Linked DNA regions of Homo sapiens. The protein of the gene in region 1 interacts with the protein of each later gene in a pairwise test. Each region holds a gene or a part of one and is shown on either strand. Other genes may lie near its edges.

Evidence for each region.
Region 2: the proteins of PGAP6 (region 1) and NBPF19 interact in a two-hybrid assay, tested with the Homo sapiens proteins (one large-scale study listed by BioGRID).

The regions. Positions count from the first base shown.
Region 1 is NC_000016.10:371,755-375,567, forward strand, and holds part of PGAP6 (post-GPI attachment to proteins factor 6 precursor), read right to left. Parts: intron 3,682-3,813; coding exon 3,591-3,681; intron 3,503-3,590; coding exon 3,379-3,502; intron 3,139-3,378; coding exon 3,002-3,138; intron 2,646-3,001; coding exon 2,467-2,645; intron 2,398-2,466; coding exon 2,251-2,397; intron 974-2,250; coding exon 857-973; intron 530-856; coding exon 233-529; 3' UTR 1-232. UniProt on the Homo sapiens protein: Involved in the lipid remodeling steps of GPI-anchor maturation. Lipid remodeling steps consist in the generation of 2 saturated fatty chains at the sn-2 position of GPI-anchor proteins (GPI-AP).
Region 2 is NC_000001.11:149,551,381-149,555,193, reverse strand, and holds part of NBPF19 (NBPF family member NBPF19), read right to left. Parts: coding exon 3,695-3,813; intron 2,986-3,694; coding exon 2,934-2,985; intron 2,308-2,933; coding exon 2,135-2,307; intron 1,421-2,134; coding exon 1,312-1,420; intron 700-1,311; coding exon 456-699; 3' UTR 1-455.

The DNA.
Region 1 (3,813 bases):
CAGACAGCAGCTGGGATCTGCAGAGGGATCTCAGCAGCGAGCAGGCAGCTGGCGAGGAGAGGTGCGTGTGAGGGAGGGGTGGCCCTCTCCTCAGTAGGAGGAAGTAAGAGGGTATCTAGGCCAATTTATTCAGCTGGAAATCAATCTGTCCAGGGCTGGACCAGGCGCCTCCCCCTCGATACAGCTCCTGGCTGAAGAGGTCATCAGAGCAGCAGCTGTCCCCAGGCCAGTGTCACGTCACTGCGTACAGTTCCTCCCGATCGTTCTTGCAGATCTGATAGTGGCAGGGGAATTTCTGCGAGCAGGCCCAGGGCTCGGCGGGCTGGTCAGGTGGCGGCAGCAGCAAGGCTGCGCTCCCGGCCAGCAGGATGTGCCAGATGCTGTGGGTGTAGTAGTAGTTGTCGCTAGTCATCATGGAGGTGTAGATGGCGATGCCCACAGAGGCCATAGAGACGCCGGGCAGGAGGTAGAAGGCCCAGCGCTGCCACGAGGTGGGGTAGCACTGGCGCCGGTGCCCGCAGCGGTAAGCCTGGAGAAAACAGCCACGCAGGTATCAGTGCAGGTGGGGCCGCGGCTGCAGCTCCCAGGGCCCAGATACGGTGGTTACTGGGGGCCTGCCCAGGTCTGGGCAGCAGAACGACAAGGGTGGGCTGCTTCGAGGGGGCTCAAGGCCACTGGTCCTCAGGCCCAGGCCTCAGGGACACAGCCATGCTGGGCCTCTGTGGGTGCCATGGCAACCCCCAGCAGATATGGGCATTCACTGGTTGGAGCAGGACCAGGAACGTGGCTAGAGCAAGGGGCCAGGCTCTCTTCTCCGAGCACCTGGGCAGCAGTGCCAGCCAGCCCGGCTCCTTACCCACATGGAGGCCATGATCACGAAGGCAAAGAGGCAGGGCCCCAGCATGTTCCACATGCCCCTGCGGTCCAGCTGCAAGGACATGGCGATGACCAGTGTACCCAGAAGAAACAGCACCTGCGCAAGACACAGGGATGACTGCAGGGACGTCTCTGAGGGCTCAAGGCCCAGCAGGAGCACGCGTACCCCACGGCCCCACAGCACCTCTGCCTGCCCCCTCGGAGCTGCTGCCACCCTCAGACCAGCTCTGCCAGCCTCTGACTAGCTCTGCCAGCCGGCAGGGACATGCCCCTCCTTCAGCTTCTGTATTGCATCCACAGGTGAATGTGGCCAGGCAGGCATCTCTGGGGGATTAGACGATGCTCACACAAACTGGACAGACGCATATGGCCGCTCTGCACCCACACACTCACTAGCCCCCTGTACCACTGGGTTTCTAGAAGTCCCCCATCAGGGTGGCTTCAGTCTCCCACCCACTGTTCCATGGGGAGGGGCTCCCACCCCCCAGTCTCCATCAGACACCTCTGCCCACAGCCTACAGTTCTCTGCCTATCTGCAGGTTCAGGCCCCGCACTCAGCCCTGCAGGACCCTGGTGCTTCCCAGCCTCCCCTCTGCCCTGGCTGTGGGGCTCCCATGGGCACCCCCTTGGGGCAGTACCCAGCCTGCAGTTCCCAGAGCAGATGGGAGGGCAGAGCATGCAGCTCACAAGCCCAGGGCATGAGTCTCCCCTTGCCAGGGCCAGCTGCCACAGAGAGTCCCCAAAGCATCATTGGCCCCAAGGACCCAGGGAGCATGGGTGGGGGCTTCTCGAAGGCAGGGGGCCTGGCCTCCCCTGCCTACCACCTTCCTTCCTGGCATCCTCCAAACAGCTGGCACTGCCCCCTCACAACTGCCTGCGGGGTCTCAGACCCGCATCTCCGTGTGGCATCACAGAAGACATGAGGTTTCTTTTCTTTTCTTTTGTCACCCAGGCTGGAGTGCAGTGCTGTGACCTCGGCTCACTCCAACGCCTCCAATGCCTGGGATCAAGCGATCCTCCCACCTTAGTCTCCCGAGTGGCTGGGACCACAGGCATGTACCACTACGCTCGGCTAACTTTTCGATTTTTTGTACAGCCCAGGCTGCTCTTGAACCCCTGGCCTCATGGGATCCTCCTGCAAGTGTTGGGATTACAGGTGTGAGCCACCATGCTCGGCCAAGGCATTACAGGTGTGAGCCACCATGCTCGGCCTAGGGATTACAGGTGTGAGCCACCATGCTCGGCCGAGATGTGAGGTTTCCAGGGGCCGTGCCCAACGCCAGGTCCGGCCTCTCCCACGGTACTGCCTTTCGCAGGCTGCACTTGGGGGCCCTGCTCCCCCGGAGCCCACACCCCACGTCGAGGGCCACTCACGTATTTCAGGACTGTCTTGAGCCGTGCCATGCACAGGATGGTGACCCAGATGGCCGCCCCGGAGCCCAAGAAGTCGCAGTACTGCAGCGTGTCGTAGCTGAGGATGCACAGCACCGCCTCCCCGGGCTGGTCGCAGGCGTGGTAGAACTGTGGGGAGGCTCCATGAGCGCGGTCCTGCCCTCCCACCCCACATCCCTGCAGGAGGGGCCAGCCTACCGTGGAGAAGAACATGGTGTAGGCGTAGACGGAGGCCTCCACCAGGAAGAATCGCCGCACTGAGACGGCGATGGGGGCCAGGAACATGAGGTTGCTGAGCGTGAGCAGCAGTGTGGCCGCCCTCTGCTGGGCCACCGTCTGGGCTGTGCTGTTGTCCGTGCAGCTCCACCCACGCCAGCCTGCGGTCACAAAACCCCGACGCGGAGGCTGGGGGCACTGCTGAACCTCAGGGCCCACCCCTCACCCAGGACCCTGCAGAGAAGCCCCTTCCTCACCCAGGAGCAAGCAGGGTAGGCACGGCGGGCGGGGTCCAAGGTCAGGAGGCAGTACCACCCCCCGGGGATACCTGGTGCCTGTGCCAGGCAGACGGATTGTTGGTGGGGAATGGGGGAGTGGGGAGGAGGCTTTGCCCCTGCATTGCTCTGCAAGGGTCTCTCTCCAGCCCCTTGCGGCGCTCCCCCAGGGGAAAGGCACAGCACAGCACTGGAAGCCAACAGCAGCAGCGTCTCGGGGCGGGCGGGGCCCTGGCACTCACCTGCCTTGCAGCTGCAGCTGGCATACAGGTAGCTGTGTCTGCGGAGCAGGAGGCACTGGCCATAGGGTCCACAATCGTTCAAACAGGGCACCAGGTACAAGGTGGTCTCCACGTGGACCACAGCCTGCTCACAGTCCCTTTGAGGAAGGGGCCACAGGAAAGCTGGTGCAGTGATCTGACAGCCCAGCTGCCACCAGCGCTCCCAACAGGCTGACAGACATGAGAACGCAGCATTAGGGCCCCCAGCTTTCAGCAGCCCTGGAGGAAGCACCCCTCTAGCTGGGTCACTCCGAACGCCAACCTCAGGCAGCCCGGCCTGTGGTCCTGAGTGAAATGACAGGGTGCCTGGCCCCCGTCTCTGCCCTAGGTTTACTTACTCAGCATTCTCAGGGCACATGAGCTGCAGGGAGAGGTACCAGTTGTCTGTCTCTGGGTAGGGGATGATGAGGTTGGCCCTGCGAGACCAGGCGCTCAGAGACAAAGGGTAGCCCTGGAAGAAGGCTGCAGGGGAGCCAGAGGGCCCCATCAGAGGAGGCCGGGGCGGGGGGCTGGCCGGGGCCACGCTGACGGTGACGCCTGCCCATCATACCTGTGGTGCAGTTGAGCGAAGTATTGAAGCCAAGGAAGGGCGAGGCAGCATTCACGCAGGCCACTACGACGGTCTCGTTCCGCATCTCTGTCTGGAAAGGGAGGCGGTGCCGGCTCAGCTCCAGCAGCCCCTGGCCGCAGTGGGGTCATCTGCCCCACGTGCCAGCTCAGCCTGGTGCTGGTGCCTTTCTTTTTTTTTTTTTTTCTGAGATGGAGTCTTGCTC
Region 2 (3,813 bases), on another chromosome or scaffold:
TGTGTTACAGATGGATCAGCTAAAACAAGCCAACACTGAAGACACAAAGAATGAGGTTAGGTTCATTGAAACCAGGGTAACACCTTTGGATGAGCTAAACACAAAGATGACACTGACCTTGAGCAGGTATAGAAGCTCAGAGACATGCCTGCAAAATGAAATCCCTGAGGAATTTTGTAGCTACCCAAAGATACGTGGTTCAAATTAAAATGTCCGACTGATCACTCCCGGCATGTGCTGCACAGTTATGTGAACGTGTCACACCTAACGTGGGTCCATTGTCTTCAGACTGAGCACAGGTTGCCACTGGCATGGTTTGAGAATAGGAAAAGAGCCATGCCCACTGACCCATCCTATGTCTGGGCTTCCAAATGGAACTGTAGTTTCATTCAAATCTTCACGTGCCTATAGGTCCTGCCTGCAGGAATGACATCTCTCGGCTTAGTAAGGGCTGCCTATTGTGGGAATATGACTAACATCTGGAACACCAGATGGAGACTTGTCACCGTCAAAGTAAAAAACCTATTGTCCAAGTAAAGGGCGAAGCTGATATGCTCTTCCTCAAATGAGTAAAACACACTTCTGTAGTGCTGGAATGAGTCAGGTAGTTCAAAGTACATTGACGGAGTCGAATAACATCCATCCAGTGAGTCCTGTAAGACTTCAGGCTCTTCCACTTCCATCAGCACGCTGTTGAGCCTGGAAAAGGAGACAAAACTAAAGAAGCAGCCAGGGAAAATCAGACACCACAGAGCCCCACTAGATTTCAGAAGTCACATAAGGAAGTGGTTAGAAAAGAAAAAGGATAGATCCATTAATGAGGTAAAAAAAAAAATTTATTGCCTTTATGTTGGGATAGAACAGGGCCAGGTAGAAAACAATGAAAGAGAAAGACAGAGAGAGAGAGACAGAGACAGAGACAGAGAGAAAGTGACCTAGTGAATTGGCCAGGTGACATACTGGTAAGGGAGTAAAAGGACACTCTGAGTTAGTGCCCTCATGACACACAGCAAACTGTGATCATGAAAAGAGTGAGCTCAATAGTTTTCCATAAAATATGCTCAAAATTCGATGCAGTGGCCATGAGAGTACAGCTTTTGAAGTATGGTCAACCTATGGTACGCTAGTAAATGATAAGGGGAGGAAGAAATGGAAACCTAAACATCTACTGCAATGAAAACCAACAGCAATGACAGTAGGAGTAATTCAGCCTTCGTTGAAAACATGACATCAAACACACTCTGGTTTCCCTGAATCTGTTGCCTCCAGGTGTTAACACAGAATTAAGCATCCACAATTGCTGAAAGTCACCTGGGGCATGGTGGGTTTTGATCTTCTTCCCCTTCTTTTCTTCCCCTTCTTCTTTCCTTCTTTGATCTTCTTCCCCTTCTTTTCTTCCCCTTCCCCTTCTTTTCAATTTCTGCAATAAATTCAGACATGGACAGACACATTAAGCTGATTCCCCTACACACATAACAATCCACTGTCTAATCCTCACACAGGGACCTCAGGCTCCTCAGCATAAGAATAGGACACTGTGAGAGATATATTTCAGGAGGCCTGAAGGCTGGTCATGATAGAAATTCCTCGGTTTTTCTCCCAGAAACTGTGGGTAAAATGTCCCTATTCTAGTAGATCGTTATCCCAATATCATTTGTCCCAAGTTTGTGCAAACAGTTATGCCATATTTTTCCAATCAATTTAAAGCAAATACCCTCAAATGATTTCTGGGAGAAAAACTGCAATATTTAGCCCTGTCTCATCAAATACTCAGATTGTTCATGGTTGTGAGGACTTTAGACACTGAAATTAGAGTGAAAAAGGAAATCTACAAACCCTTGAGTCAAAATCATAGTTCTCTGAATTTGTCACATCTGCCCAGGTCCAATGTCATGAGAGTAGAATCAGAGTGCCACAGGTATGGCCTGAGACTAGGAAGAGAGCCATGCTCACTGACCCATCCCATGTCTGGGCTTCCAGGTAGAACTAGAGTTTCATTCAACCTACATGTGCCTATAGGTCCTCACTGCGGCAATGACATCTCTCAGCTCAGTAATGGCCACTTGGAGCAGGAATATGATCTTTATATGGAAGACTCAGTGGATGCTTATCACCTTCATAGAAAGGTACTCACCTCCCACGTCAAGAGAAAAGCCAACATGTTTTTCCTCCAATGCATAAAAGGAACTTCCATAGGGCTGGCAGGAGTCAGGCTGTTCAAGACAACTGGAAGGAGTTGAATAACATCTATCCAGTGAGTCCTGCAAGACTTCAGGCTCTACTACCTCCAGCAGCTCCCTGCTGAGCCTGGAAAAGGAGGAAAAAGTAAAGAATAAGCCAGGGGAAATCACACACAACAGAGCCCCAACTAGGTTTCATGGGTAGCATAAGGAAGTGGTTAAGAAAGTAAAAGGATAGATCCATTAATGAGGTAACAAATTATTGCCTTCATGTTGGGACAGAACAGGGCCAAATGGAAAAGAATGAAAGAGAAAGACAGATAGACACACACACACACACAGACACACACACAGAGAGAGAGAGAACGAGCTCAGTGAATTGTCCAGGTGACACACTGATGAGGGAGTAACAGGACACTCTGAGTTAGTGCCCTCAGGACACACAGCATACAGTGATCATGAAAAGACTGTGCTCAATAATTTTCCATAAAATGTGTTCAAGTTTCCATGCAGTCGCCATGAGAATACAGTTTTTGAAGTCTGGTCCACCTACAGTAGGTTAGTAAATGATAAGGGGAGGAAGAAATGGAAACCTAAATATCTACTGCAATGAAAACCAACAGCAATGTTAGTAGGAATAATTCAGGCTTGCTTGAAAAGATGTAATCGATAATGTCAGCCCGCTCTGTTTTCCCTGAACCAGGAGTCTCCAGATGTCAACACAGAAGTAGCTGTTCACAATTGCTCAGTTACCTGGGGCATGGTGGGCCTTGGTCTTCTTCCTCTTCTTGGTCCTTTTTAATTCCTGCAATACATTCAGACAGGGACAGACAAAATAAGCCAATTCACCTACACCCATAACAGTCCACTGTCTAATCCCCACACAGGGATCTCAGGCTCCTCAGCATGAGAACAGGACAATGTGAGAGATATACTTCAGGAGGCCTGAAAGCTGGTCATGATATTCTTTGGTTTGCATCTCAGAACCAAGGGTGAAATATCCCCATTCTGGAAGATCGTTATCCCAAAATCACTTATCCCAAGTTTGTGCAAACAGTTATGCCTTATTGTTCCCATCAGTTCAAAGAAAATGCCCCAGATGATTTCTAGGAGGAAAACTGCAGTATTCAGCCCTGTCTCATCAAATGCCCAGCTCGTTCATGGATGTAAGAATTTTAGACACTGAAATTAGAATGAAGGAGGAAATCTACAAACCCTTGAGTCCAAATCATAGTTCTGTGAATTTTTTACATCTGCCTGGGTCCAATGTGCTGAGAGCGGGCTCAGGTTGCCACAGGCATGGCTGGAGACTAGGAATAGAGCCTTGCTCACTGACCCATTTCATGTCTAGGCTTCCAACTGAGACTACAGTTTCATTACAACCTATATGCGCCCATAGGTCCTGCCTGCGGCAATGACATCTCTCGGGTCAGTAAGGGCCACTTGGAACAGGAATATCACCCCTATCTGGAAGACCAGGTGGAGGCTTATCACCTTCATAGTAAGGTACTCACTGTCCACGTCAAGAGCCAAGCCAAGGTACTGTTCCTCCAATGAGTAAACAGCACTGCTGTAGGGCTGGCCTAAGTCAGGCAGTTCAAGATAACCTGAAGGAGTCGAATAACATCTATCC